Linked DNA regions of Homo sapiens: regions 1 and 2 are each linked to region 3. Evidence: fine-mapped expression QTL. A gene starts in region 3. Each other region holds a variant in brackets. All regions are shown on one strand. Distances are from middle to middle.

Region 1 (10,151 bases), 30 kb after region 3:
CTGCCCGCCTCAGCCTCCCAAAGTGCTGGGATTACAGGCGTGAGCCACTGCACCAACTGGGTTGATCTTTTGACCCTTGGTGCTAAGCTGATCCTGGAGACCCCCCACCAACAGTCCCACCAGCTGGAAACACCATGAGGGCAGGGTTCATTTCTGCATTTCCCTTAGGCCCTAGCACAGCTCCTGCCACATGGCAAGTGCTCAGGCAATGCTTATTGTTTTAAGCATCATTAAGATTTCATACTTAGGTAAACCATAAAATCAGATATTGTAGAGGACAAGAGCTGAGGCATGAAGGAGGGTGCACTGGGGAGAGCAACCAAAGACATGGGTGGGCCTGGGTCAGGCCCTGACTCCACTGCCGGCTTGACTTGGACACCGTGGTTTCTGCACCTGTGATCCCATGGGATTGACAGCAGAGATAAATGGACCTGAATATTAGTGTATGGCTGGACACAGAAGAAGTGCCCAATACTCATAACCTCTGAGGTCTAGACACCAAATAGCAGGGTAAGGAGATAAAAGAAATACATATGATTTTAACCTGGGGGAGGAAAGACAGCAGTGTTCTAGAAAGCAAACCTGGGCTCTGGGTCTCATCTAGACTGGCATCTAAATTGCAGTTTTAGGCCAGGCGTGGTGGCTCACGCCTGTAATCCCAGCACTTTGGGAAGCTGAGGTGGGCAGATCACTTGAGGTCAGGAGTTCGAGACCAGCCTGGCCAACATAGTGAAACCCCATCTCTACTAAAAATACCAAAAAATTTAGCTGGGTGTGGTGACATGCGCCTTTAATCCCAGCTACTTGGGAGGCTGAGGGACGAGAATCACTTGAACCCAGGAGACGGAGGCTGCAGTGAGCCAAGATTGCACCACTGCACTCCAGCCTGGGTGACAGAGTGACTCTGTCTCAATAATTAATTAATCAGCTAATTAATTGCAGCTTTGCCACATACTGCTTGTGTAACCCAAGGGAAACAGAAAATGACACGTCCTTTGCAGGGGTACCGTGAGGATTAAACGACACAGGTTAATTCACTTACTATTCATTCAGTAACTATTTATTGGATGTCTAATACATGCTTAGTATGGTCTCTGGTCATGCAACGAATGTTAATTCCCCTGTCTCTTTGAAGGAAGGACTAATGGCTGGACACTAATATTAAAAGAGTCAGTGGTATTCAATAGAAGGGCTTGGGAGAGTAGTGCTCTTGTCATGAAATAGCACTTCAGTCTGGAAATCCTCTAAGTGATTTCTGCACCTGAGGGTAAAAGAAGAAAAAAAGTCAGAAATTACATGGTTCAATATTTACTGAGCCTCAAACATGTGTCATGATTGGAGAGGACCACTTAAGACATTGTGCTTGACCTTAGGAGCTCGGAACCTAGGGGAGGAGTCTAACATCCACACAGATCACGGTGGCAGCATATGTCAGTGTGGTGGCCCAGTGGTCTAGTGTGGCAGGGAGGCAGTCACTGATGTCCAGGGCACCCGAGGATGTTTCCTGCAAGAGTAACCCAGGAGCTGACTGTCTCAGGGTGACTGGCAGTGGCCCGGTGGGGAAAGGAGGGATGGCACAGGCAGAAGTGAAGCACAGGTGGAGATGCGCTGGAGGAAGGCATGGCTTGTTTGGAGACTCCCGATGGTCCCCTGGGATACAGGTCACCACACTGGATATGGGACACCAAGGGTGCTTTCCTAGCAGCAACCTGGGGCAGAGGAGAGGGAGGATGTTGTACTGGACCATGCACGTGGACCATGCACTGGGCATAAGGGCATGACAGAGGCTGGGGCAGTCACCAAAGGTTGACTCTGAAGGTACAGTCCACAGGTTGGGGCAGTGGCCGGGAGCCCTAACCTCAGTCGGTATTAACTAAAAGGCCACCAGGCAAGTGGGGATTGAGGTGACAGTTGACATAAAGGATAGGGGAGCAGTCATTGCTCTGGAGGACTTGTCCATGGGGCCATGATCACCGCCATCAGACTAAGGGCCTACACGAGGCACCTGTGCCAGGGGAGAAATGGGGCCAAGGCAGGGCCTCTTGGGGACATTTAGAAGAGGGGACCAAGGCAGGACCATGTCCTATAAGCTGGGTTAACAAAGGCAGCCAGGGAAGAATTGCACCCAGATTTACCCCTGAGGACTGTGGATCTCAAAAGTGCATGGGCAAATCTTCCTTTGACTTGGGATCTCATCTCAAATGTGGCCTCTACTGAGCCTTCTGTGACCACACTGTGCACAGCAGTCCCCTCACCGCCATCCTTCACTCTCTAGCCATATCTTGTTTCCTTTCAGCACTCATTATTGCCTGGAAAGGTCTTATGTGCACGTTTGTTCACTGTCTGCCTCCCCCAACAGAATGTTAGCCTCAGGAAAGTAAAGCCCCGGCTCTTGTCCCTGCTGTGTCCAGCTGGACACCAGGCCTGCATGGACACTTGGTGTGTGCTGAGAAACTCAGCAGCAGCAGGAAGACTCCAGCCACATGGGGCTTCAAGGCCAAGGTGGAGTCAAAGGAGACAATCTGGCTGGGAACAATGGCTTACACCTGTAATCCCAACAGTTTGGGAGGCCAAGGCAGGAGGATCACTTGAGCCCAGGAGTTGGAGACCAGCCTGTGTAACATGACAAAACCCTGCCTCTACATAAAATACAAAATTTAGCAGGGCATGGTGGTGTGTACCTGTAGTCCCAGCTACCTGGGAGGCTGAGGTGGGAGGATCAGCTGAGCCCAGGAGGTCAAGGCTGCAGTGAGCTGTGATCGTGCCTCTGCACTCCAGCCTGGGTGACAGAGAGAGACCTTGTCTCAAGCAAACAACAGCAACCCCGTCTCTACTAAAAATACAAAAATTAGCCTGGTGTGGTGGCAGGTGCCTGTAGTCCCAGCTCCTCGGGAGGCTGAAGCAGGAGAATCGCTTGAGCCCAGGAGGTGGAGGTTGTAGTAAGCCGAGATCACGCCACTGCACTCCAACCTGGGCAACAGAGCGAGACTCTGTCTCAAAAAAAAAGAAAAAAACCAAAACCCAAAAAACAAAAACCAAACAAACAAACAAAAAACAAAACAAAACAAAAACAAACAAAAAGAGATAATCTGAACACAAATAGCTTTTCGAGAACTCTCATTGTTTCTGTCCTAGACAGGATTCATTCAGAAAATGGCGTGGGCCTGAGCTAGCCGGGTGACAGAGGGCTGTGGGAGTCCCACATGAGGAGCTGGCATGATGGTTGAGGTTAATGCTGACATCAGGGGTACCCAGCAACTGAACTGGGGTGGGGACGGCAGGAGAAGTGACCGGAGAAGACACGAGGGCCTGATAAAGTGTCTCAACCCTGTGCTGATGGGTGGGGACTTTCTCCTTTGGGCAGGGGAAGCCTGTCACTTCCCTTGCTTAGTTTTTAAGCAGGGGAACTGACAGGCTTAGATCTCTATTTTAGAAAGATTAAACTGGTTGCGATGTGGTGGCTGACTGGAAGAGGGGGTGGGCAGGAAGCAGGGAGGCCAGATAGAAGGTGGGTCCAGATATGAGATGATGCTGGTTCTAGCTGAGGGAGTGGCCATGAGTTTGTAGAGGAGCAGGGTGGATGTGAAGACCAGAGAGAGGCTGTGGCTAATGCTTTCCTGAGGGTAACAGTAGTGCAGGTGTAAGACTGCGTACTCAGGGAGGACTTTGGTTATTTGGATGCTTGTAGGAGGGCGCATTCTGCTAAAAGGAGACTACAGTTTTTGCTAAATCCTTGACAAACCCAGCTCACAGAAGTTGAAGAAAGGGCTGAGAAGGGAAGAGGGAGGGAGGGAATGAGCACTGATCATAGGGCAGGCGTGCACGACTTCACTGACTCCTCACATTTCTTCCATCCTACAGCAGAGGACTGAGGCTCTGCTTCTTTGCCTGAAGTCACACAGCTGGAGTGCAGCACGCCAGAAGTCACCCCTGCACCTGGACTCCACTCCTAACAGCTCGTTGGGATGTGGTTGGTGTATCCCTCAATTGAGACCTCAGGGGGCGGAGCACGTGCTCAAGCAGCTTGTGCTCTGGACTGAGGAGAGCAGGTTTCAAAATGCCCATGGACAGGCAGGCTGCCGGAGTGACGGGGACACTGTTCCTGCGCTCTGGTGCTGGGTTGACTCACATGGGGGGCCAAGCTGCCTCCCCCTCATCTCACCTGTCCCAGTCCCCAGCTGCCTTCCCAAGTCCCAACCAGAAACCAGCTTGGAGTGAATAACAGGCTGGACCATTAGGCTTTGTGCAGATTTTCTTCAAACAGAATGACCAAGGTGCAGCCCAAAGCAGCCAGGAATGTTGGGATGACTTTATTTAACCAGGACACCGTGTGCATGCTCTCTGGCCCATTTCAGGCCTTGGTTCTGGACTCAGAATTGGTTAGAATCAGTCTTCAGTTTAAATGCCTATAAAGTGAGAATAATCATTGTTCCTTCTTCATCTGGTGAACGGGGGCAGTAGGTGAGATAGGGCCTGCAAAGGGCCCAAACAGGATTTATCTCGAAGACCCCTGAGTACCAGGGGTCTGAATTCTTAGTGTAATGCTGAGTGGCTGCTCGCAGAGCGCTTAAATCAGGGAAAAGTTCTTCTCTGCTGCCATCTAGTGGCATTTTGGGAATAACACGTGCGTGAAGGTCCGCAGAAGCTCCTGTTTCCAGGCTTCTGAGCCAATAACCAAAGAACGTGTTGCACTTGGGGCCGCGCTCTGGCTGCCATCACCTGTGTACTGGAAACTGCCCACTGGCATATGGACTCATGGGGCAAGACCTGCCACAGGGCCTGGCACATCCTGCACGGACCACCTTCCCACCTGGCTCTGACCTGCGGATGTTTTGGAGTCAACAGTGTGCTTAGAGAGCCTCTTAAGTCACCACATCTTTGGGAAGAGGGGCACAAACCAAAGATTTATTTTGCAAGTGAAAGGGGCAGCCCAGGAGACCCAGAAAAAAGGAAGGCAAGGCTGAGAGCAGAAAGCCTGGATAAAGGAAGACCACAGAAAGGCCTGCAGGAGCCAGATTGCGGCCCCCAGGGAAAACCCAGGAGGCAGGCTGTAGAGTGATCCTGGGCCCAGCCTCAAAGCTGGGACTGGAGGGGCTTTAGCGACTCAATTCCAGGTGCAGCATTTGCAGGAGTTGCTGAACACCAGGCCTGTCGGGCAGCTTTGCTGGAACAGCCGCCCCGCTGCACAGCTGTAGAAGCTGGACCGTTCCCGAGGATTGGGATAGAGCCCATCAGCTTTGCCCTGGCAGAACGTGTCTTGTCCAGGGCTGGGGCCATGCTCAGGTTCAGAGGGCTGACCTGGTTTTGGAACTTCAAGCTCTGGGGTGCCTGAAGGCAAGTATGGAAGACCTGGGAAGACAGTGAAGATTCAACCAAGGCTCCCCCGAAGAGATCCCAAACCCACAGGCAGAGCACACAGGCAGCAACCATTGGCTGGCAGCAGCCCAGCACCACATGCCCTACAGGCTGAGTACAGCCAGATACCCCAGGCAGAGAACAGCCAGACAACAGCCATACCTACAGCTGAAGCACAGTGCCACAGGCAACACCTGGCCTCACATGTGACAGGCAGTTAAGGCTTTACCCATCTGCAAGCACAACCATATACTGCTGAGGGCAGGTGGGGGTGCCACGCTGCAGGCTAAGGGGAGGCTTTCTCCCAGGTAAGAGAGGAACAAGGTGCTGCTCCCAGTCTGGGGGCCCTCTGGAGGGAAGCCACGGTTACAACAACCCTGGGCAGGCATTGCTACAAC[C/G]AGGAAGAGAAAGACCGCAAAAAGGAAAATTGTTTTGACAGTTTCCTTAGCTCCTGCGGGTACATGAAGCTTGGGAAATTACAGTATTGGGGCAAAGTCATTTCCTCAGAAGGACCCGGGACCTACAGTTCATTGGATGCATGGAGCTGTGTTTGTACCCCACCTCCAAATTCCACCACTGGCCCTGGGCCCCTTACTTACTCAGTTCCTGCCGTAGCGTCTGGATGAGGGGGTATCGGCCCTGGTTGCAGGAGAAGCCGGCAAAGTCATCTAAGTCCAGTGCCCAGACCATGGCCCCGCCCAGTCCCTTCTGCTTCAGATAGCTGACCTGTGCAGGGAGGGGATGCAGTGGAGGAGCCCGGGGAAGCCTGACCCGGCCACCCCAGAGCCTGGCTACCTCTTCTGGACAGGGCCCTTTTTGCTCCAGCAGCCTCAGGCCTGTGAGTGGCTGTAGATTCTGGAGACAGCCTTGGGCTGGGAGCCTGGATGCTGAGTCCTCATGCTGCTTGGACATCAGTCATTTTGCAGTCTCCTTGTCTTAACGTAAGCATGACCTGGGGTGGGGTGGGTGCAGTCGGGAGGAATAGTGTCAGTTGTGTGCACCTCCCTAAGTGGGAACCCTTCACCGCTTGGTCATGTGTGGGCTGAGCTGCTTTATTTAAGGGTATTGTATGCTGGTCAAGGTCAAGGTCAAGGTAAGTCCAGTTACCATAGGGAACAACTCAGATTTCCAAAAGATCTCAATCAAGGCTTGCTTCTCTGTCTTCATGTCTTTGTCTTCCCTGAGAGCCATCTTCCCTCCACCAGATTCCTGAGGCTTCCTGAGGGTATGACTGTGTGTTCCCTCAGAGTGGGATTCTCTGTCCTCTAACCCTGCCAGGGGGCCATGGTGCTTGATCCCTTGCTGGCCCCAGCCTCCCTTTCAGCTAGCTCCCTTCCTCTACCTGCCCTGCTTGGGGGTCCAGCTATGTGGGCCTACACTTTGTTTTCAGAGTCCAGCCTTTACTTTCTCTGCACCCGCGTCTTTGCTTGTGCAGTTGCCCGCTCCCTCACCCCTAAGAATGGCCACCTTCTATGCTTTAGGACTTATCTGAAATACCCTTCCACCGTGACCCCTTCTCCCATCTCCCCAGCCAGGATCGTGCCCCCCTGCAATTGTCCACCTCTAGAAGCTGCCGCTGTCAGCCACACATGATAGTTGATGTGGGATGTACAGATAAACTAGTGAAGCATCCGTCTTCAGGAGCTAACAGTTTCACAGGGGAAAATGGCATGAAACCAGGTAAATGCACCAATATTGGGCAGGAGAAGGGGGTCCTATAAGTAAAGCAAAAGGTCTGTAATTTGGACATGCACCAGATATTGCCAATGGGCTGAAGAAAGCTATATGTCTCACCATGTGTATTTCTCCTCTTCATATGTCTGTAGAATTTGTATGGTATTTAATAAAATAGAAATACTTTCCAGAGTGCTACTAAATGTAGAGCAATTTTTTGTCATTTTGTCTTTTCTGAGTCAATAGGTAGTAAAGGTACAAAATACTATCACGTGGAGATTTATGAAATGTTGGGACATTTAAAGGAGACTCACCCTTGAGGTCCTGAACTGTCCTCATTCCATGTCATTGACAGGACTTGTTCACTAGGACCACCCCTCTGCCAGCAGAGCTGGGCCTCACCTTGGTTTTGAAGCTCTCCACATCATCAAAGCCCACCCACTGGTTGTCCCGGAAGATGTAGGGCACCTTCTGATCCTGGATTCTCTGTTTGGTGGCCCCCTTCCAGGAGCAGACCTGTGGGAGCAGAAGGCAGCACTGGGGAGGAGGAGGGAGGCTCTTGCAGGCACCTTCCCTTCCTCACCAGGAGGAGACTAGAGATTGGAAAATTCCTGTCTGAGGAAGCCTGGAGAATCAGGAGGTTCTTTGCAGTGACCTAGAATTCTGGACTCAGCTTGAGGCACCTGGGCTTAAGGATAAATTCAAGATGGCATGGATGAGATGGAATTTACATGGCCAGAATTCTCTGCAATTGGCATCCTTACTCAGAAACGGTGGGAGAAGGAAACCTCTGTTCTCTCAGGCACCCCCTGACCCTCACAATACCCAGGGTGGTTATGGGTTTTCCTACTTCATAGTAGGCCAGCATCCCTCCTTCCTTGGTGAAGGGGCCTGGAGTGCCAGACCCTGTGGCTGGGGCCCCCACTCTGGTGTCTGATGAGGAGGCCAGTGTGAAGGAGCGTCCGTAGGTAGGCATGCCAAGGATCAGCTTGCTGGCAGGGGTCCCCTTCTGCAGCCACTGTTGCACAGCAGCATCCTGGTGGAAGAGGGCAGGGTTAATTTTCTCAGCCCTCAGCCTGGTTCTGATTATCTAAGTCTGGGGGATCCAGAGGCAGAGCTAGGAGGGCAGGGGCTCCTCAGCTGGAGCTCTACGGGCCTTTGTTAGGATTCCAGCCCTACCCCATCTTCTTTAGAGCCTGCCTTAGACCCGTGACCCCAGTGAAGAAGCTGCATGGCATGATAACCAGAGAGCGTGGGCTTCGGACGCAGACAACCATTCACTGAACAAATGTGTACTGATGGCCCACTGTGTGCCAGGCGCTGTCCATGGTGCTTCAGACACATCAGTGAACAAGGCAGACACAGATCCCTGCCTTACCCAGCAGCTTATTTAACCTCACTGAACCTTGGTGTTCTGTCTGTAACATGGAAATAAGGAAAATATCCATCTCTTAGGGCATTGTGAGAATTAAAGGTTATAATGCATGTAAAAGGTCAGCACAACGCAATAAAGGGTCGCTGTGGTCATCATCGTTATCATGATTGTTGTCTTAGTTTTACCCTGAGTACAAAAGCAGGGAATTGGGTCTGCTTTATTTATCTCTGTATCCTCAGTGTCTAGAATGACACCTGATGCTCAGATAGAACAAAGGCTTCCTTACCCACCTTTGAATAAGGCCTTCCCCTGATTATATATTACTTGGTGTAACACCCCCAGGCCTGTGACGGGAGAAGGTACCCGGTACAAGTATGATAAATTAATGAATAATGAAGCCTCATTCCTTAAGCCAAGAGTATGGTTCACTTTCCCCCAGAAGCTGCCCTAGTTTTGTCAGGTCTAGTTACTCTGAGCCCACTTAGCACTTAGGTAAAGAACAGCTTTCACTACATTTATTTAAATATATTTCTTTTTGTCCATCTATACAACTTATCTTTGATCAGATGGGTGCTTTCTGAAGGCAGAAGTCGGGGCTTCTCCTGATCTGTTATAGCACTTTTGTGCAAGTTGGGAAAAGTCACCCATCTGGTTAGAACCTGTCCCCGGGCACACTGTGTGGTGAGTAGAAGGCCTCTTTGTAGGAATAAGATGGCCTCCATTCCTCGGTGGATTCAAGGTACACAATGTGGAAAGCAGGGTGCTGGAGGGACTCCCACCCCACTCACCTCTCAGCTAAATTTCTTTCTGTGTCTCCCCACCAGCACAGGGATACAGCTTCCTCCAAAACTCACACAGTCTTCCAGACAGGGATGGAGAGGCCAGGCTCAGTGTGAAATGTGGGTGCCTGGCTCACTGGCTCAAAGAGGTGCTCTTTATTCATGAAAGAGCCAGAAAATCAAAGATGTCCCACTCCAGCTGACATACAGAGATGTGGGCTCTCCAAAAGTAAAAAGCATTTTAATTTAGGGCTTTTTCTTTGTTGTTTGGTTTTGCTTGTTTTAAGAAAGAAAAATAATGTAGTTATTATAAGCCCTCTCTGCAGGGTTTTATAAACCCTCTCTATATTTTAAGATATATAGAGGGCTTATAAAAAGGATCTAGGCTGGGCATGTTGGCTTGTGCCTATAATTCCAACACTTTGGGAGGCTGAGCCAGGAGGATTGATTGAGGGCAGGAGTTTGAGACCATCCTGGGCAATATAGCAAGACTCCATCTCTACAAACTTAAAAAAAATTAGCTGGTCATAGTGATCCCAGTTACTCAGGAGGCTGGGGCAGGAGGATCGCTTAAGCCTGGGAGGATGAAGCTGCAGTGAGCTATGATCATGCCACTGCATACCCTCCTTGGTGACAGAACAAGATTCTGTCTCTTAAGAATAAATATATAAAATTAAAAAAAATTAAAAGTGTCTTGATTGCTCAATGAGGAAAAGTTAGGAAACCCCAACCTACCCTAGTCTAAAAACCAAGCCTGCCCTTTGCAGGTGCTGGGAGTACTTCCACCCTGAGTGACATCTGCAGAGATGTTATCAACTTGGGAAAGCTCCTGTCCCTGAAAGGACCTTCCAGAAGGTCAACCAGTGTGACCATGGAGCACAAGTCTGCCCACTGTCTTGAAGGAAATGGGGTGGGGGTGTGTGAGGGAAGCAGCAGGCCTGCTGGCTGGAGACTCAAGCTCAAAGTGG
Region 2 (10,151 bases), 64 kb before region 3:
GGAGAGCGAATCTGTCTCTTCCCTCCAAGGGAGCGGGTCTGCTGGGCCTTCTTAGGCGCCGTCCCTTTTGGCCTTTCTGCAGGTGAGCTCAGGAGAGGCTCGGGCAGGTGGGGAGCTGAGGCGCTGCCTGTTTCGTCTGTTCTGGCCCATGATGTCGGGTGAAGCATCTCAGCTGAAGCCTTGCGCAGTGCTCCGCCAGGCGCTATAATGCTGAGCCCAGCTATGGCTCCTCCTTCTTCTCCCTTCCGCGGGAACCCAGCACCTAGCGCGGCGGAGCAGGGAACTCAGGCTGCGGGACTGGGGTCTGGCCCTGCCCAGCTCCTCGCCCACGCCCAGGCTTCCGTTAGGCCAGCAGGGGGACCCCGAGCCCCGGACAACAGCCCTGAGCTGGGCGGCTGCTTCTGGCTCTAGATCCCGCTGCTCAGCCGATCCACCTTCCCCACCTCCCTCCCCCCAGCCTCAGTTTCCTCCTCTGAGAAATGGGAAAATGATTATACTTATTTCACCGGCAATGCTATGATAGTTAAATAATTCTAAACCATAAAGCGTTGTGAGACTTCCTTCTTGTACTCTTGAAGTGTATTATTTTGAACATTGAACATTCAGTCAATGTTTCTTGAGCTCTATGCCCCGGGAGCTATTTTAAGCCCTGGATGAAGTCTGTCCAACTCGGGCCGGGGATAGTGATTGAAATAGAAAAGCTCAGTAAGTGAAGGGCTCCTCTGTGTCTCCCACCCCACTTGACGAGCCAGATGGAGTGAGTGGCTTTTAACTGTAGAGTGGACCCCTCTAGCAAGCTGCTGTTTGCTTTTCTGGTGTGGAAGGTAGGACTTTGGGATGAGCCCACAGAGGACCAGGGAGCCCAGGCCATCCACTACCTCTTTATCCCGACCTGAGGAACGTGCACTTAGCGCAAATTCCCTTCCTTCCATGCCCAGTGCTCGCTGGTGACAGGGTTCAGGGCAGAGGGGGTGAGGCAGATCTGAAGGGAATGATTCTAGACTAGCACTTTGAGTTCTGCTTAACATCAGGGAGTTGGGGCCAGGATAAGACTGGAGCTGAGGGAATGGGCTGAAGCCGGAATCAGTGGCCAAGCCTCTGTGACCAGTTCTGATTCCTGAGTATAATGAGTGAATGCCTAGTGTTTCCACACCTGGCTTCCATCGCTGCTGGGAGGGGCTTCACTCAGAGAAATAACTATGAGAATGTGTACATGGTGGGCTCTCCTGCAGGCTCTCAGGGGACCCAGGGATACTGGCTGAGGACAGGGGCCATTTCATCCCAGTTAGCTTTTTACTGAGTGGAGCAAAAACTCGTTCCTTCCATGAAGCCTCTGGCTTCAGTCTCAGCCCTTACACCCCAGGACATGGTCCATGAAGCACCTAGTTAGGACTTCAGAAGGATGAGGTGATGGTTCACGTGGAAGATGTTGCTTTTCAGTTCCTTCTGTTTCGTTCCCTCAGTGGGCTGCAGACTCTCTGAGTGGGCTATTGTGATGAACTGGAAAGAACCTTGGAGTGGAAATCAGGAGGCCTGAGCTCACGTTTCAGCTCCAGCACTCAGTGGTTTCAGGCCTCTCCTTGAGCCTCAGTGTTTTAATCTGGCAAAGGGGAGCATAATAGCTTCCCACCCAGGTGGGGTGATGATACAGGGGATAAATGTGAGAAAGGGCCAGACATGTGTTCTGCCTTTTCTTCTGTCTGTATCTACCCTAGAAAAATGAAAACACATCCTCACACAAAAACCTGTACGTGGGCCAGGTGTGGTGGCTCACGCCTGTAATCCCAGCACTTTGGAAGGCTGAGGTGGGTGGATCACCTGAGGTCAGGAGTTTGAGGCCAGGCTGGCCAACATCGTGAAACCCCGTCTCTACTAGAAATACAAAAAATTAGCCAGGTGTGGTGGCTCACACCTGTAATCCCAGCTACTCAGGAGGCTCAGGCAGGAGAATCGCTTGAACCTGGGAGGCGGAGGTTGCAGTGAGCCGAGATCACACCATTGCACTCTAGCCTAGGCAACAAGAGTGAAACTTCGTCTCAAAAAAAAAATAAAATAAAAAAACATGTACACGAATGTTCATAGCAGCATTATTCACAATAACCTAAAAGTGGAAACAAGCTAAATGTCCATCAACTGAAGAACGGATAAACAAAATGTGGCTTGTCCACAGGATGGAATACTATTCAGCCTTAAAAAGGAATGAAGTATGGATACATGCCACAGTTCAGATGAACCTTGAAAACATTATGGTAAGTGAAAGAAGCCAGTCACAAAGGACCATGTATCCTATGTATCATATGATTCCATTTATATGAAATGTCCTGAATAGGCAAATCCATGGAGGCAGAAAGTAAATTAGTGGTTGCTAGGGATGGGTGGTGGAGGGAAGGGTTGGGAAGTGACTACTGATGGGTGCAAAGTTTTTTTGGAGGAAAGGTGATGAAAATGTTCTAAAATTAAATGATGGTGATGGTTGTACAATTCCATAAGTAACTCAAACCACTGAATTGTGCACCTTAAATGGGTGAACTTTATATTATGTAAATTGTATCTCAATAAAGCTGTTAAAAGTTTTTAATTGGGTGTCCTGAATTTAGTCTGGCAGCTTCACTTCTGCCCCTCCTTCCTTCTTTTCTCTAGTCTTGACAGCCTTCTTCTCCCTTTTGGAACATATAGAAGATAGTGGGGGTATTTGTCTTTCTTGAGGGACAAGGACACCTCTTGATGGGTGGGGAGGAATAAGGGAGCGATTAGGGAGTCAGATACCAGGCTGCCTCACCTCCAACAGATATCATCATCTCCCCTGCCTCAATTTCCCCTTCTGCCTAGTGAGGGGAGGGGAAACAGAGGATTGCTTGCCTTTGAACCCTTGGAGGTGCTGTCGGAGGAGTCCAGGAAGGTGGGGTGCATTTGCTGGCTGGGATGGGGTGGGCTGCACAGGACAGCATGAGCGCTTATGAGTCACATGGTGGATCTCCCAGACAGTGGTGGGGTGGCAGGCGGATTGCCCAGAGGCACCTCTTTGGCCGCAGACAGGGGCAGAGAAGCCAAGAAATCTGTGACTGGTGCCCCGTGGGCTAGGGTTAGGGGTAGGGGCTGGGCCACAGGCTGTCAGATGAAGAGGAGCTGGTGCTGGGAGAAGGCTGAGTCTTTAATGGAGCTGCAGCATGGCTGGCCAACTGCTGGCCTTGTGTCAGGTGGGGGGGTGGAGGGGCTTCAGGGAAGGGCTGGGTTGGGGTTGAAGACCTGGGAGCCTCTCCTTAGGACCCAGTGGCAGTGGGGGAGGGCTTGGAGCTGGTGAAGAGCTAGATACTTCCAGGTCTGGGGACATCCAGAGCTCTGTGCCCAGCCAGCTGTCATTAACTGCTTAGCTCCTTGGGGTCTGTGCTCAGCTTCGTTTCCCTCTGATTCATCTCTTCCTTGCCACTGCTTCCCTCCCTCAGACTGTAAGCATGCTCAGAGCTCCCCATCTAAAACCAACCTCTTTTTGACCCCTCTCTCCTGCAGCTCACCATCCATCTTTTGTTCTCATCCCTGCCAAGTTCTTTCAAACTAGACTCATCTGCACCCACGGCCTCTACCTTGCTTACCTGCTGCAGCGTCAACCTTTGAGAGGCACTCCTACTCCCCCATCCCCTGAAGCTTCTTTGAGGTCTCCACACCCTTCTTTTCATGAAATCCACCACATCCCCCTCAGACCTATCATAGCTGCCCTTCAGCCCTCAGCCCCGAACCACTCAGCACCCCTGCTTCCTGAAATGTCTGGTAGCCTGCTCCTCCCCTTTGGCTGCCCTCCCTCTTGATTACTGTGGGCACAGCCCAGCTTCTCCACAGCCTATTCTCTGCATCCTCTCCTGGGTGGCCTCATCTCTCCCAGGGCCTTGACTGTCACCTCCATTGCGATGACCCAGCTCCAGCTCCGATCACCCTTTGGCCATTTCCAGAAGGCTGCTGGACCCCTCCCATGGGCACAGCCAGCCCAACCTGTCCAGGAGTGGACTTCGTATCCCATCCCCCATCCCCCCAACCAGCCTGTCCGTCAAATCTCCCTCATCCTCCTCAGCATTTCCCTGGGAACTCAGCTTGAAATAGAGTCATCTTTGCCTCCTCAGTCCCCCAGCCACTATGCCCGGAAGTCCTCCCACGAGACATCTTTCCTGTCCATCTTCATCTCTGTTCCCACTGCTTCCTCTTAGGTTTAACTTTT[C/T]GTCATCTTTGACCATGATTGCTTCCTGGCAGTTCTGCCTGCTCTCACCCTCTCCTCCTCCCCTCTGCACAGCGTCTTGGATGATCTTCCTATAGCATCTTTCAGGTCCTTCAGAAAATCCTCAAAAATCCTCAAAAGCTTCCCATTATCAACAGAGTAGACTGTATATTTGTGTAGTGATCTACAATCTAAAAAGCACTTTCACATAAAGTCAAAGAGGTAATGTTATTCTTCTTCTTTTATGGATAAGAGAACTGAGGCTCAGGGAGGTATGGGGAGTGGTCAGGCTTCACCCAGTGCTACAGAGCAGATCTGGGACTGGGGCTGAGGCCTTCTGTGGGTGAGGCCTTTCAGTGGGTGCATCGCCCACTACAGTCCTCTCAGTCTGCCCTGGGGACCTCAGCAATGTAGCCCCTAGTTGTCACCCTGCTGCCCAGCCTGGATCCAGTGCCCCTGCTTAGCCCCTGGTCTTGCCCAGAACACACTGGGCAGTTTCCCATGCCCCTTGCTCAGGCTGCTCATTCACTTTCTGCCCACAAAGTCCTCCTCCAGGCCACTAGCCCATCTCTGCAAGCACAAAGCATCCGGTGCCTCCTTCAAGGCCCAGGCTATGTGTTGCTTTCTCCAGAATCCTTCCCAGCCCCTGCCAGCAAGGGAGTATGCTCCTCCCTTGTCTGGGACCCCTGGAACACACCACCAGGAGCTCCAGCTGATTCTGAGCAGGGATTGACACAGCCGGGCCTCCAGTCCCCATGCTTGCAGCTCTTGGGGGGTGTCTTCATAATAGGCCCTTCACAAATGCCAAAGAAACAAATGGTGGATGGGGCTGCCCAAGATTCTCCTCCTTGAGGAGGCCCTTTCAGACCAATTGGCCCAGCAGTTCCAATCACCTCCCGAGCGTCACATACACCTTCATGGGTAAAATGCATCACACGGCTGGGTGCAGTGGCTCACACCTGTAATCCCAGCACTTTGGGAGGCCGAGGCGGGCAGATCACGAGGTTAGCAGTTTGAGACCAGCCTGACCAACATGGTGAAAACCCTTCTTTCCTAAAAATGCAAAAATTAGCTGGACATGGTGGCAGGCGCCTGTAATCCCAGCTACTTGGGAGGCTGAGGCAGGAGAATCACTTGAACTCAGGAGGCAGAGGTTGCAGTGAGCTGAGATCGCGTCACTGCACTCCACCTTGGGTGGCAGAGTGAGACTCTGTCTCAAACAAACAAAACAAAACAATCAAACAAACAAACAAAAAGCCACACATCAAACCTGGCTCAGTCCTCGGACGGTCCAGGTTCTAGTGTTAGCTCTGCCATGTGGCTTCCCTTGAACCTCTCTCATCTGTGACCAGGGACTAATAACACCTGCTTTGCTATCTCCCTGGTGTATAGTGAGCATTCAATGGGATACTGTCTGTGAGAATTTCTGTATTTTTATTATACCAAGAAGAATGAGCTTGAAGGGAATTCTTTTATAAACACTAAACTTTTGTGCACCCGTGAGGGGCTTTTATAATTATATACAGGTGTGTCCACCTAACACTGCCTCCCTCTGCTGTAAGGTGGCGAGGGTGTGAAAGCCCAGAACCCTCACTTCATCAAGTTCTAAGATTAAAGGGCTGATGCTTGAGGGATTCTCAAGGGATTCCCTGAAGGGTAGGTGGGACCAGGGCTCAAAATGATGCTCACCTCCAGGACCCTCCTGGGTACCAAGCCCTGCCCCTCACTGCTGGATGGGTATGGCTAAGTTCATTCCTTCTCTGGGTCTCAGTTTCCTTATCTGGAGAGGTTGGATTGAAGCTCAGATGTTCACTTGTTTTTTTTTTAAGAGCCACAATGTTCAAAGAAAGTCTTATACCAGGAACCCATACATGAAATAACCAGAGCTGCTTCATCTAAAACAGGGTGGCTCCCTGAGCCCCCAAGACCTGACCCTCCTTCCCAGCCTTGGAGGTCCCGAGGCTCCTCTGTGGAGCCCTAAGGGGTCCTCAGTGTATCAAGACCCAGGAAACATGTTCTGATTCTCACTGGAGGGATTGTGTATTGGGGCCCTTCATGCCTTCCTTACCTGAGTGTGAACTCTCTCTGGAGCCTGCAGGAGAGACTATGGCTTTTTTATGCCTCTACCCACGATGCTCAGCTCACTGTCTGATACACAAAAGGGGCTCAAGAAATGTTTACCCAACAGAATAAATGAATGAATGATGATGAGATTAGGAAAGAAATGCGAAGGACAACCTTGCTTTAGGAGGTAGGAACAGTTCCATGCTGTCTGGAGGAACGGGAACTAGATGGCCTTGACCTACCCCATGCCTCCCCACCGCCTCACAAACACACAGGGAAACACGCAGCCTGTGTTCTTCCCGTGGGCCCAGTATCTGGCACAGAGAAGCCCTGACTGGGAAGAAGTGAGCTGGAAGGAGGGAGGGAGAAGGAGGCAGAGACCCAGGGTGCAAATCTGAGCAGAAGGAGGGTGGTAGAAAAGGAGAGGAAGGGAACTTCCAGGAAGTCACTGCAGGGGCAGACAGGCATGGTTATGGGCCCCTTGGGGGAAGGGCTAAGGGCTTTCCTGACACCCAGAAATCTTTTTGTCCCAAATGCCTGCTCTTATCCAACAGTTCTCCTCCTTGTGCACACACTGGCCAGAGCAATGCTGAAAAAACAAGACAGGGACCAAAATATCCTTCTGCCTGCTGGAAAGGACAGAGAAAAATTCTGAAACCCCCTCCAATCCCCAAGCTCTCCCCACAGGGCTGAGCCAAGCCTTAACAGCCAGTACTCCTTGCCTTCCTTCCTGGGCTCTGGAGGGGTGTGCTGGGATACTTCAGCCTCCTTGGGCAGCCCTTTCTGACCTGAGGAGTATAGCCCAATTTGGAGAGTTCCAGGGAGAAAAGAGCAGGGCTGCTCAGCAAGGTTCCCCTCACCCAGGAGTGCTTCCCCTTCAGCCCTCCCTCTTCCCCACCCACCTCTGCCCACAGTGGGGAGGCTGCAGGTGCAAGGGGCCAGTGGAGAAACCCAGGACAGGGGCTTAGGAAGAAAAGAAGTAGGATCAAGCGGTAAAAGGACCACAGGCGATCTTTACATTTACTGTGGCATTATCTCACCCCCTGAGTCACATGGAAAATAGAAGCTTTGCATTGGGCATCTTGGAGGGCACCTAAACTTGGTACCTGTGGGATTTGGTACCAACATTAGCATCCCTGGCTGTGCAGGGCAGATTTCATAATTTTGCATTCTCTTTCCCTTTCCACCCCCACGCTTCACTGGCCTGGTGCTGCCTACTTGCCTTTTTGATAAAATATCAGTGCTGGACGCTTTCCAAAAGCCAGCTCATTATGTTCTCATAACCATCCTACACCGAGGGGTATTCCTACACTGCTGTTACAGGTGGGGAAACCAAGGCTCAGCTTTTGAAGGCAGGTGAAGCTTGGAGGGTTGCATGGCTGCAGTGTGTGAGGGGACCCTGGTGTGGGGAGGGTCATCTTGTCTAAGGGTCCTGGACACACTGTGAAAGCCAGAGAGTTTTGACTCAGGATACATTCCAGACACCTTGGCTCCATCTGTTCTGCCTACAGCCTCCCTCATTGTCCTTTCCTCGTTATAGATCTGTGACCTTGCCTCTTCCTCTACTCGCCTCCATCACAAACTTCCCCTTCTCTCAGCCCTGCTCTCTGTGCCTCACAGGGGAGCTGGGAGTTAGAAGACTTCCAGGGGGAAGGACCAAGTTCTGTGGTCTCCATCTCAGCCCATCTCTCGCACCTTGGAATGGACTTACCAGCTGTTGGTGTAGGATGGGTAAACTGAGGCCAGGAGAGGAAAAGTGGCCTGCTTGAGGTCACGCAGCCAGTGAGTGGCAGAGTAGAGCCTAGAAGCCAGCTTCCAGCTCTTCTGACTCTCGGTCAAGTGCTCTTTTCACCGCACCAAATGACCCTGCTGCCCAGGAGATCTCAGCACCGACCCTCCTACCTCCGTGTCAAGCCAGAGGACTGAGGAGACCGTGTGCTTCCCCCAAGGCAGCTTTCTGGAATAGACCCTGCCTTGGCCAGTTCTGTTGTCAAATAGGCTGGTCTAATCCCTGAGGCTGGGAACAGGCAGGGGTGGAAGGATGGAGAAGATAAGGGAAGAAGATTTTGGCTTATTTTGCCCAGAACTGAGAAACAAATTACCTACAGGCATTATGCAAATGCATCCACTACATGTCAGCAACCTGTGGTAAGATGAATCGGAGGTGGGAGTGTATGTGTATGGGAGGTGGTGGTGGGTGCTCAGTTGCCCTCCAGAGCTGAAGATGCTGTCAATAGTTAGACAGGGTGACCCCACTCACCCATCCCCGTCCCCAAGCTGGGCCCATCTGGGTCTTCACAGTCTCTTCTGACATCTAGTTGAGTGACCATTGGGAAGCTGAGTGTAAACTGAGAGAGAAAGCCTTGAGCCAAAAATGGCTTAAGTCAAGCAAAGGGTGGAGAGGCAGGGGATGGTCGCAAAGGCCTGCATGTCTGGGTGGCAGGGGGAGTAGGCAGGACGTCAGGTGCTGTTGGGCGTGTTGACAAAGTCAGCAGGGGAAGTGCAAGGGGACGAGGAGGAAGGAGAGTTTACACTTCCTAATTTCTCCAACTAGCTTCTAGGGAAGGAATGTAATTTTGCTGTCTGAGGCACTGATTCCTTGCTCCCCCTAAAGGCAGAAATGGAAGTTATTTTTCCCCACAGAGGGCTTCCCCCTCCTCCTCAGAAGACTCAACTGCCCTTCCTCCCTGCCTCCCAGCTACCCAGGTTCCGGGTCCCACATCATTCCTCACTGTGATTCAGTGCAGCCCCCAATGGGAGCAACGTGCCCACCCTCCTCTGGGCAGAACCCTTTTCCTTGCATTCTGAGATCCAGTGAGGGGGGCAGTACCCCCAGAGGCCAGGTTGGGTTGTGGCTAGCTAACATTGGGGTCCCCAGCCTGACTCTCTTTGCCTTCCTAGAACCCTTGCCCAATACCCACAAACAAGGATTTCTCAGGTTGGGATCTCTGCGAGGCATCCATCCATGTCCAGGGTCTGGTCATTAGTTAATATCAGTGGACTGCCTAAACCGAAACTGGCAGAAGGTGGCCAGGGGAGGGGTCTGGACCCAGTGGAGAGAGTCAGGAGCCTGGGATTCTTATTTTGGTCCTGTTAGGATTTGCCCTGTGACCCTCCGGAAGTCCCTTGCTTCCCTGAGCCTGCTTCTTTATCTGTAACATGAGGGGATTGGACTGGATGCCTTATGGCTTAGCGCTGTGCTATGAAGAGGAAGAAGGAGGAAGGAAAAGGAGCGCAGAGCGGGTTACACTGCCAGGAGATCCTGGGAAGCTAGGTCACTTCCCTGAGCCTCAGCATCCTTATCTGCAAAATAGAAATTGCTAATAGACTAAAAGGCAATTCTGAAAGATGGATGAGAAAGGAATATAATGACTCAGGGTAGAGCCTGCAAAACAATATGGGATGAGAAGATGCAGGGACTGGTTTCATGGAGAGAGCAGGGTTTTAGGATTGGGGGAGGGTGCCAGGGCTACCGACTGCTTTGGGAGATCCCAGAGGGGGCATTCTGAAGTCCTGCAGAAGAGATGCTGTGCCGTGAGGGGTGAGGGGTCGCTGGAGGCCAGACCAGGGCTCCCAGGAGTCCTGCATTGAGAAGGGAGAGAGTGGACACAGGAAGGATGCGCCTCTGTCCAGTCCTGAGGCTGGGCGCACACACCAGGCCCTTCGAAAAGCTCACATTTTTTCCAGCTTTTCTCACCCAGTATCACTTCCTTTGTTAAGAGGAGGGGGTGGGGGAGGAGACGGAGGATGAGGAGGGAGGGGCTGGCGGGTGCCGCCGCCGCCCCCGCCCCCTCCCGGTGTGCGGAGCCCGATTGTCACTCAGCTCCTGCGCCGGGGGCGACAGAGCCGCAGGCGCCCGAGTCGAGTCCCAGCCAGCTACCAT
Region 3 (10,151 bases):
CCCCCACCACTTCTGCCAGGCTTATCTTAGTGAAAGCAGATTAAAAGTAGCATCAACAGACAGCCTGGCGGGGAAAGAGCAGGACCAAAGGATGACCTGAACCTAAGATGACTGGGGTGGGAGGAGGTTTTGCACACCCGCACCGGTGAGCCCACTGGGGGTGGATTGCATGAATACGGGTATGTGGGGCAAATGGTTGACATCCACCTGTTTCCCACCCTCTAAAGAATCCATTTAATTAAGCACTGAGTTTACACCTCCCTGGGATCCTAAAGAAAGCTCTGAAGTCATTTTGAAGAGTCTTTGTTCCTTACTCCTGGGTTTCCCGAGACCCATGGCTCTGCTCTCAGGAGAGATGAGGCTGCTTGGCTGTTCCTTGTTCCTCACAGGCATGAGGGGTGGGGTGAGGATGAGGCGTGGGGCCAACAGGAAAGGGGGAGGCCTGTGTGTATGAGAGAGCCTTGAGGACTCCCCAGCACTCTAGAAAGAGGCTGCTGTGTGGCCTCTCCAGGGCCCAGCACTCTGCTCTGCCTGGTGTGGAGAAAATACTCTGCAATAGCTGGAGGGTTTGAATAGCTTTTTCCACTTCCCTTTCCAAAATACTTTCATAGCAGCTCTCTCAACTGCTCAGCCAACAGCCCAGGTGAAAAAGGAAAGGCAAGGATTGTTATGCCTCATTTGACAGATGGGGAAACTGAGGCACAGGGCAGGGAAGTGACTTGCTCAAGGTCACACATCAAGGCTTTGGAAGAACTGGGACTGGAAGCCCAGTGTCCTCAGTCTACATGGAGTGCTAGGGCTGGGGGTGGCGGGGAAACAGGAGTGTTGGCAGAGGTTCTGGGGAGGCTGCCTGGGGCAGGAGACTCACTGGGATATCTTGGCAATGTCATAGCTGCTGTCAATGGTGACCTTCCCCGCAGACAGTGCTGCGCTGAGCAGGAGCTGCTTTTTCCCTGGCTGGGCTTCCTTTATAAATTCGGCCTTCATTTCCTAGATGGGAGACAGGCAGGTGAGAGAAAGGGTCCCAAGTGGCATGAGAGGTAGACTCATCGAGGGCGGACTAGGTCTCTGCGCAACCCATTTGCTGTACTCCCCAACCTGCCTGGGGCCTAGTGGAAGTGATAAAGTGGCTCATCAGTGGTCCCATCCTCAAGTCACCCATCCTTTTCCTAAAAAACTGACTAATCTTCTCCCCAAACCCATGCACACCCATCAGCACTCAATTACTCCCTGTCCTGGAGGGAGCATCGGACAGTGGGTGACCCCTATTGGCCCACAGATGACTTTGGGAGACATTTGCCTTTCGGTCTGTGCTTTGTTCTAGCTGGTGCATGAAATCCCAAAGTTAAAGTGATTGCTGCTGGTATTGTGAACAATTTGTTTAGACTCTCCTTCTGCCCCTGGTAACTGGAGATACTTAGGCTGCCCCCAGGCAGAGCTGAGAGCTGCTGGACACAGTGCATGCTGGGTATGGGTGGCATCAGTATGGGATTGAAGGGTGGGCAATGGGCAATGCACTAAGTGGGTAGTTATAAGTGGGTGCTCTGCTCAGTCACAACCTTCCACCTCTTAGAACCCCATTCCCACCTCCCACCATGGTCACAAGAAGCCTTCCTTGCTATGTGAGATCTTCAGGGCACAGGGTCCCAGGACACTGCCCTGAGGCTGAAGTCCCTCTTTACCTGTCCTCAGGAGGACAGCAGCTGACGCCGGCTTCTAGCCCACCCCATTCCCTCATGCCTGCCCACCTCCCTCCCTGTCCCTGACCTGACCAGCACCTTGATTAGGGTGGTAAAATGCTGTTTGTCTCTCCGTCCAGGGTAGAGCCAGGCAAGGTCCAGCCCATCAAAGCCATGGGTGCGCAGAAATGGCGGTACTGACTTGATGAAAGTCCGGCGACTCTGGGTGTTGGAGGCTATCTTGGAAAATCTAGGACCAAAATCAGCCCTGTAGCATGCTCAGCACTGATATGCTAGGTGCCTTGGGCCTCTGGTGGGGTTTCCAGGACCTGCAGAGCTGGGATCCTGAGGCCACACAGCTCTGGGAGGGCATGATTGGGACAGGGGTCGCCTCCAGGCATGCATGTGCCTTAGAGCCAGGCATTCCAGGTTTCCAAGTCTGGCTCTATCACTTACTAGCCAGCCACTGTGAAAGGTTATAACCTGAGTCTCAGTTTCATCATCTGTAAAATGGGGACAAATATAACAGCTCACCTTGCTGTTGTGAGGACAACATGGGATCATGGGGAGACAGGGTGCTGGACACAGAAAGAGTACCCAGCACATGGGTGCCAACGATGGCCATAACCACCCCCATTTCAAGCCCTGCTCCAACCCCACCTAATCCAAAGACTCCTCCCAGGGTCTCCCCACTTCTCAATGTCCCCATTGGTTTCCATCTCTCTCTTTCCAGCCCTAATGGTGGTAGCCCCAGAAGTCCCATATTTTCGGGCCTGTGAGGTAGTAAATAGAGCATTGGCAGGGAATTGGGAGATCCACTGTTAACTTGCTGTGTGACTCTTGGCAAGTCCTGCTCTCTCTCTGGGCTCTGCTTTCTTTGCTACACATCAGGCAGGCCCTTGACAAACAGGTAGGCCTTGTACCTATCTAGTCTGGAGCCCCTGGAACATCCATACAGTGGATGCGGGAGACCCAAGCTCCTCACTCCTATGCCATCATCCTCTGCCGTCCTGCCCCTGGGGAGAGGCTCCTACCTTTGAGACCCAAAGTTCCATCCTCCGACAGACAAGAGAGTCTTCAGGTTGGGGTTCCTGTGGAGCACAGGGAGGTGGGGAGGGCAGGAGTGGAATGACATTGTCATGACACTGGGTGGCCCCATGTCTGAGAGGCCATAGAAGGTTTCCTGCTTTGGGTGAGAGGCTGGGTTAGGCCGCTGATGTCCTCCCATAGGACATCATGGGAATCCCATAGAGATTCATAGTGGTGGATCTCTGAGGGGTCACAGGCTTCATGGGAGTTACTCTGAGGTCTGCTGCCCATTTTTGTTTTCCCCAGTGGAGAAGACAGAGTATGGCAAAGTAGAGTCTTGCTCATTTTCCATGCTCCCTGGAGAGCACGTTAGGGGCAGGAGAGGGTTCCCCTCTCCCAGAGGGGCTCAGCTGCGCTTCCGTCTACAGTCTCTCATCACCCCAAATATTGCCCAGCACCTACAGTCATCCCCTCCACCCATTTAAGCCAAGCCCCTCTAACTCTCCAAACATAGGTGAGCAGGGTGGGGCCTCGCCCTTCCTCCTGGGTGGGGTTGCCCTGCCCTGGGACCAGCCCAGCTGGTCCCTCCTCTCCTGGCCAGCCCTGGCCCAACCTGTTCTTGAGTGTGTTGAGCATGCCGTAGAGCGTCACATCATTCCACTCCCAGGTGTCGATGTGATCGTTGCTTATATTGGCAAAGCTGTAGATGATGTGGGTACAGAGGAAGCGGTCAAGGGCATCTGGGAAGCAGCTCCCATCGCCTTCCCGGTACTGGGACCAGCTGGTGTAGTAGCAGACCAGTTTGTATGCAGAGCCTGAAGGAGAAGTCTGGGATGGGGCCCGGGCCAGGATTCGGCAAGAGACCTCAGGCTGAGCCCAGAGCTGAGCACCAATGGGGTGTGGGGTTGGGTAGGGAGGAGTGGGGTGCAGATTGTGAGCAAAGTCAGAATTCTTAAATGAAAGGAGCTGGTTCAGGTCCCCCTGCCTCTGGGGAGTTCCCTGACTGGTGAAAATAAGGCCTATTCTGAAAATGCTTAGAAAAGATCCAATGCAGGGGATGAATACGCTACAGGCACTGTGTGGGGGAAGGGTAGGAGCTGGGGAATAAGGATGAAATGGGACTTGGTGCCAGCACAGCAGGCTTCCTGGAAGCAGTGGCTTTGTGGGAGGGGAAGGCCCAAGATAGCCTGTGTCACAGATGGCCCTGGCTTTCAGGCTGGCACCTTTAGTGACCTGCAGTGAGGTCCTTCATCCATGAGGGACTCTGGCCCACCTTTCTCTGCCTCCTGGTGAGAGTGCCTCTAACTTGTAACCCACCCGGAATGGCAGTCCTGTGCTCCCTCGGCATGTCCCCCAGGCTGGGGCACAATATCACAATGGACCAGGAAATCCTTCCTCGCCTCTAATTCTGTTTCTCCTGCTGCAAACAATGTGGGCATCACTCATCCAAGCAGCTACTGGGCAACTGTACTAGCGGCTCCCAGGGGCTGTTAGTCAAAGCCTTCACTGAACCAGGACCTTTTAAAGTTTCTTATTTTGAGAATTTTCACATATACCAAAGAGTATAGCAAAATAAACATCCATATACTCCTCACTCCAGTTTAGCAAACGTGACTATTTCGAAGTCATTGGAAGCACAGAAGAACCTGGCAAAGTGTTCCCTTGGAGCTAAGACCTCCTCCACACCTGCCCTGTGCCCTCGCCACGCCTCTGGACTTAAAAGTGGAGGTGGAGGGATTACTCACAGCACTGGAGCAGCACCAGGACCACAAAGCCTGAAGAGAAATCCAGGATGAGACCCCTGCAAGTGCATCCTGCCCTTCCGCCCTGCTCCCTCCCCCAAGCAACTGAGACCCACCTCCCCCACCCCCACCTCCTGGTTGCAGCCTCAGTCCCTCCCCTGGCTCTGCTTCTCCTCCCCCTCTGCCCACTCCCTTAGTCCCTCACCCAGCAGGCAGATGGCTCTGCGGGCTGTCTGGGCCTGAAAACCCACAACTCTGATGGATTAACCTTGGCTAGCCCAGATACCTGTTTGAGACGCCTTCACACCCATTCTGGCTGCAGCAGAGCAGGGCAGGGTGTGGCCTCTTCCCTTGCCCACGGCTCCTGGTGCCAGCTACCTAGACAGGGCCTCTTCCCCAGGCCCTGTACTTCCTTTATATACCTGTCCCACTCCACTCCCCGACGCGGCAAACCAGCCCTTTTATGGGAACTGAGCTATGTGTCAATGAAGGAATCACGAGGCTGGCAAGTGGAGGCGGGGGAGTACTATGGATTACCAGAGGAGGGTTGAGAAACCGCAGAGTTTTGAAAACTTTGGGTCAGGTCTTCATGAGGCACCTGCCAGCAGAAGAGCCACTAGGGTGATGATGGGGGGCTTCTGGAGATGTGACTCAGCCGCATTTCCCAGCCTTCCTCCCACTCCTGCACCCCACCACTGGCCTTTCTTGCCAGCAATTTCCTGGCTTTTCTGGCAGCCTCTACCTTTGCATCTTCAGCATTCACTCCAGGCCCCTGGCCAGGTGGAAACTGGGCACAATTTAGTTACGTAAGCCACAGTGCCCTAAACAAGGCTGTTGTTTTCTTCCCAGGCTCAGCATTGCCCTGCTTGACCTACCTTCCTACCCTCCCCCTCACACTTTCTGTCTTCAGGCTGGGTAAGGGCCAGAGAGCCTCGGGAGGAAGGAAAGCAAAGAGCCTGAAACTGAGCGCTCCCTTTTGGGCCCGTGTCTTTTTTTTTTTTTTTTTTTTTTTTTTTGCAATTTACATGCTGATTATTTAGAGGGAAAGACAGGGAAATTCCCAAGAATGCTTTAAGCCCCGGTGCTATTTTGCTTCTGTTTTGAAATTCCCATAAAGAGAGAGGATCTTTTGCAAGCTCGGTGCTGCAGTGAGGCACCATGGAGGAAATACAGGCCCTACGGGGCGGCTGCACGAGCATCTGACATCAGTCAGCTCCCCAACTCTCTCAGTGAGGCTTTGGAACCCAAGCCTGATGATACAGCCCCTCTCTAAATCCTTCAGTGATCTCTCATCACTCCTAGGACAAGAACAAAACTTCTTAACGAGGCTCCCTGCCTGATTACGTCCCTGTTTGTGGATACATTTTTTTTTTGGCCAAATATCCAGGACAACTCCATTCTTTGCAGGCTTAACATTAATTAATAGGCAGTGAGTGAAAAGTTCAGAACTCCAAGAGGCAGAATGGGTCCAAGGGCTTCTCAAGAAAGTACCTTTATTTTTCACTAATGTTAGGTAATACTCTAATTTTTCCAGGCTGGTTTTGCAGCTCTCTCGGTGAGGTCTCTCTGCTCTCTCCCTCTTCTCTCCCTCTCTCCCTTTCTCTTCCTTTAAAACTCAGCCAGTGCCTTCCCTTCATTGTAAGAGAGGTGGACAAAAAGTGGCTTGTCCAGAATCACGCTCGGTGAATACTAAAGAGGCATCACTTTTCCTTTTTAAGATGACTGCCTCCTTTTGTACCCAAGATGATTGACAGCAATGACAGTCAATGATAGCTTCTTCTGGTTCATTTGGGGCACTGAGAGGAGGACTTCTAATTTCTAATAGTGATATTATGAAGTGGCATGCAGATGCAAAATTTTTCATCACAGAGCACAGGATGTTAAGAAAACACCTCCTATTTTCACTATCTCCCTTTGTTAAAAATTATTTCATAGGCTTAGATTGGCCCAAGCCTTGTTGTCCTATGCTCCCTCAAGCTCAGTTTATTAATTCCACATGCTCTGCCTGAAGGCAGCTTTGTAACAACAAATGGCCAAGATACCCCCAGGCCTGTGTTAGCAGGATTGGCCAAGGGTCTCATAGGCTCACCACCTCCCAGCCTTATCTCAGGCCATGACCCCCACCCTCCCTATATTCCACTCATGCTTATATGTCTTCTTTTAAATCCTTATATTTGCTCTACTGACTCCCGCCACAGGGCCTTTATATATGACATCCACTTGCCTGTAAATAACGATGAAAGATCTGAGATTTTATGCTACTTGCAAATTAATGACATAACTACAGTTTCGTGGATGTTGGCAGAAGACACGAGACTCCTAGGTCAGAGACAAAGGACTTTATTATCCATGGTACAGCAAGCAGCATGAACTTCATGTTAGGGTCAGTTCCCCTTAGCCCTCAGGTCTCACAAGGGCAGTGTTGGAGGAGCCCAGGTAGATGCCATGAATGCAATGAGTTACATCACAGCAGAGGAATCCCTAGTTTAAGGAACTCAAATCTTTCATGATGAGCAGTAAGCCTTCCTCACCTTGGCCAGCCCAAGATAAGGGAGACATTATCTTTATTACTGGACAGTAAACAAATCTGCCTTTTGGTCTGGAGGGGGGACGCTATTTCTATCTTCCAAGGCTGTTTGCTGTACAAACATCACTAAAAAGATTGCCTAGAACAAAGAAGCCAGTGCCTCTGCACATAAGCTGTGCAGGAAATGCAGGCAACCCATGGAGAATTGCGGTTGGAGAATTGCGGATGGAGAATTGCAGCCTAACACTGCTCTTCTTTGACTGCTTTATTCTTCCTCATCCTTCAGATTGCAGCTCAGGAGTCACCTTGTCTGCAGAAAAGGCAGTCTCCAGGTGACAGAAAACCCGCTATAGGGCTGTCAGAGCACTTTGTACCTCTCTCCTTAACACCTGACTCAGTTATAATTTTATATGTTGTGTGTGGCAGTGGATGTTTTGTTTGCCTCTCTCACTAGACTATAAACTCAGTAAAGGCAACGGCTGGGTCATTTTATCCACCTTTGTATCTATCCCCAGTGCTTGAGACATAGTAGATGCTCAGTAAAGTACTCGTTGAATAAATGAACAAATGATCTCAAAATGGTGCATAACTTCACACTCTTATGAGTTTAAACCCTGATGTTCTCAAAATTTCATCTCATTCAATAGTTTTTGTTACCCTGTGAAGAACTGACTCAGGAGGTGCCATAAAACCACAAAACAAGCTTCCTGACTTAATTTCCCTAATCAAACATTTCTAGGCCCCACAGTACATTGATAGTGTTCAACCAATGTTTATTAAGTAAGTGTACTAGAGTAGTTGCCTTCCACTGAGGTAGACAGTAGAGACAGAAAGGTGAATGGGAACAGAGAGGCAGTCCCTGTCCTCATGAAGCATACAGTCTGGCAAAGAAGATGGACATTAAACAAAGAAAAGCAAGTAATGTATTACGAAGGAAGGGCAGGTGTTAGTCTGCCCCTTGCCCACCGTCCCCTACACACAAAAAAAATTGTGCAAAAACCTGGAGCAGGAAGAGGTTGTTATGTTCAGGAACCAGAAGAATTCAAGAGTGGTTGAGGCATGGAATTAGCAGGAGGGAGCTCGAGGGAGGCACAAGATGAGTCTGGATCAGGAGCCAGAGGGTGGACATTACCACCATTCAGAAAACAAGCTCCTGGGAGCCTGGGCTGGCCCCTTGGGCACAGTGGTTTTGAGGATTCCTTCATTTTGCATGGCGTGTCAGAGCAAACAGAGGTGGTGTTGATGCCCCACCAAATGCTTGAGGAGAATTCTCTCTTTTACAAGTAGTCTCTTCCTCCAGAGGGTGGACTTCTGCCAGGCAGGAATTCAAATCATCTCCAAATCCTCAGCTCGGTGGTGGTGCTGGCGCACAGTAGAAGCTGTCGAAGACTCAGAGGCAGAAACACTTAGAGAAGAAAACAGTTGCTTGTGAAAAGCGGAAGCGAGTCAGATTTCAGAATGGCTGGCTCGTCAAATGCAAAATGCAACAAGTATTTGAAGGGGAAAAAAAAATGACCCAAGGTTATCACGTTTGGTGGAGATCAGCATCATTTTTACAACACATCTTCACTTATCAGCATAGCAAAAATCAGGGATGAAATTGTTTTTTTCGGGGAATTTTTTTTCTTTTTGAGACAGAGTCTCACTCTGTCACCCAGGCTGGAGTGCAGTGGCGTGATCTGGGCTCACTGCAGCTTCGACCTTCTGGGCTCAAGCCATCCTCCTGCCTCAGCCTCCCAAAGTGTTGGGATCAATGGCGTGTGCAACCACACCCAGCTGGGAATCCAAATTTATGGGAAATAGCCAAGGCTTATTATTTTGGTGTCTTAAACCACTCAGGATAACCTATTATTCTTGGCTTATCTCCAGATGCAAATTATTCCCATCCCCACCCCGCAGTGGTACTTGGTCATGAATGAAGCCAGTAGAGTGAAGAGTTGGGCTTTGCGTCTACGGATTTTCCTTCCTTGTGGGCAAGTCCTTGCCATTGAGGCATGGGTTGAACCGTATATGTTGCTTAATAACTTCCTGATGCAGCATCATCAAATTGATATTTTGTTTTATTTGACCAAAATTTATTTCTATTGACATAACAGGAGGTGTTGATGAAATAAATACTTTCTTTTTGTATGGCTAGCGAAACCAGAGCCACATGATAGTGATGCTTTACAGTGAGCTTCTGTCTGGAGGCTTTGTAAAGCCCCTAGGGCTGGGAAGAAATTACTTTTATGTGTGAAGTATTATATCAGCACCATTTTCTCTAAGATTCCCATATGTGTTAATATTCCTAGACTGCCAGGAAATGTAGGTTTTATTTATTTATTTATTTATTTATTTATTTATTTATTTTACTACCTCTAAGGCTGCAATGTCATCAGTTCTAAAGCCATACCAGAGTTTTCTAGAGGACTTCATAGGTGTCATTTCCACATGTAAAATGTAGTCTTTATTCCTTAATAGTGGCTTATCATATAACAAAAATTCTTTGCTTGGCCAAATTTCAGGCGGGCTTCTGAATCTTCTCCTAGGCCCATCTGTGCACTTCCTTGTAAAATCCAGTTTTAGCAAAGAGCCCTGCTAAGTCAATTTAGCAAGAACCCCCTACCCTCAACATCTGAATACCTTGACATCTGACCAGGTTCCTTGTCCTTTATCATGCCCCAGGGGATGTCTGACCACCCTGGCCTGTCTGCAGCAAGAATCCTGTTAAGTCTGTTTAGCCAGAATCCCCCTTACTCCTGTTTCCTCTTAGTAACTTCTGTCTACAGACCCCCTGGTCCTTAGCTACTGATTTCCACTTGCCCATGCTGTATTTAGAGTTGAGCCCAATCTCTCCCCCCAACTGCAAGACCCCATTGCCCTGGTTCCTGTACCTGTCATAATGATCTTGGATAAAGACATCCTTACATACTTCAACAAGTGGCATTGGATAATTTTTTTCTTTAACACATACCTAATTAAATGGAATTTTGGCATGGTCAGTATCCAATTATTTTCTGGTAAGAAAAAGGACAGATTCTCATTGGATCTATATAAATAACATGATCATAAACATTCATTCTATCTAGAAGTGAATAAGCTATATTAATTTGGTTCCAATTTTCCCCCTCAAATGTATAACATAGGATATTTGATCATAAAAAGTAAAGGAACTTGTAAAAGCATGGGTAAGAG

What was found.
Region 1: its variant is fine-mapped to the expression of CHI3L1 in whole blood (TOPMed, PIP above 0.99).
Region 2: its variant is fine-mapped to the expression of CHI3L1 in whole blood (TOPMed, PIP above 0.99).

What each region holds. Positions count from the first base shown.
Region 1 is chr1:203,211,785-203,221,935 of GRCh38, forward strand. It overlaps CHIT1 (chitinase 1), which reads right to left. Exons shown (of 11, transcript NM_003465.3): 8 at 7,880-8,065; 9 at 7,432-7,545; 10 at 5,955-6,081; 11 at 4,295-5,349. The coding sequence ends at 5,105. It overlaps LOC124904485 (a long non-coding RNA gene), which reads right to left and starts at 1,703. Exons shown (of 2, transcript XR_007066797.1): 1 at 1,369-1,703; 2 at 1,039-1,261. RefSeq lists enhancers at 3,548-4,304, 4,305-5,060, 5,061-5,816. The variant C/G (reference allele first, on the strand shown) is at 5,754.
Region 2 is chr1:203,117,641-203,127,791 of GRCh38, forward strand. It overlaps ADORA1 (adenosine A1 receptor), which reads left to right and starts at 10,086. Exons shown (of 4, transcript NM_000674.3): 1 at 10,086-10,151. RefSeq lists an enhancer at 9,810-10,151. The variant C/T (reference allele first, on the strand shown) is at 4,208.
Region 3 is chr1:203,181,863-203,192,013 of GRCh38, forward strand. It overlaps CHI3L1 (chitinase 3 like 1), which reads right to left and starts at 4,842. Exons shown (of 10, transcript NM_001276.4): 1 at 4,737-4,842; 2 at 4,454-4,483; 3 at 3,322-3,523; 4 at 2,714-2,770; 5 at 1,779-1,929; 6 at 869-990. The coding sequence starts at 4,761.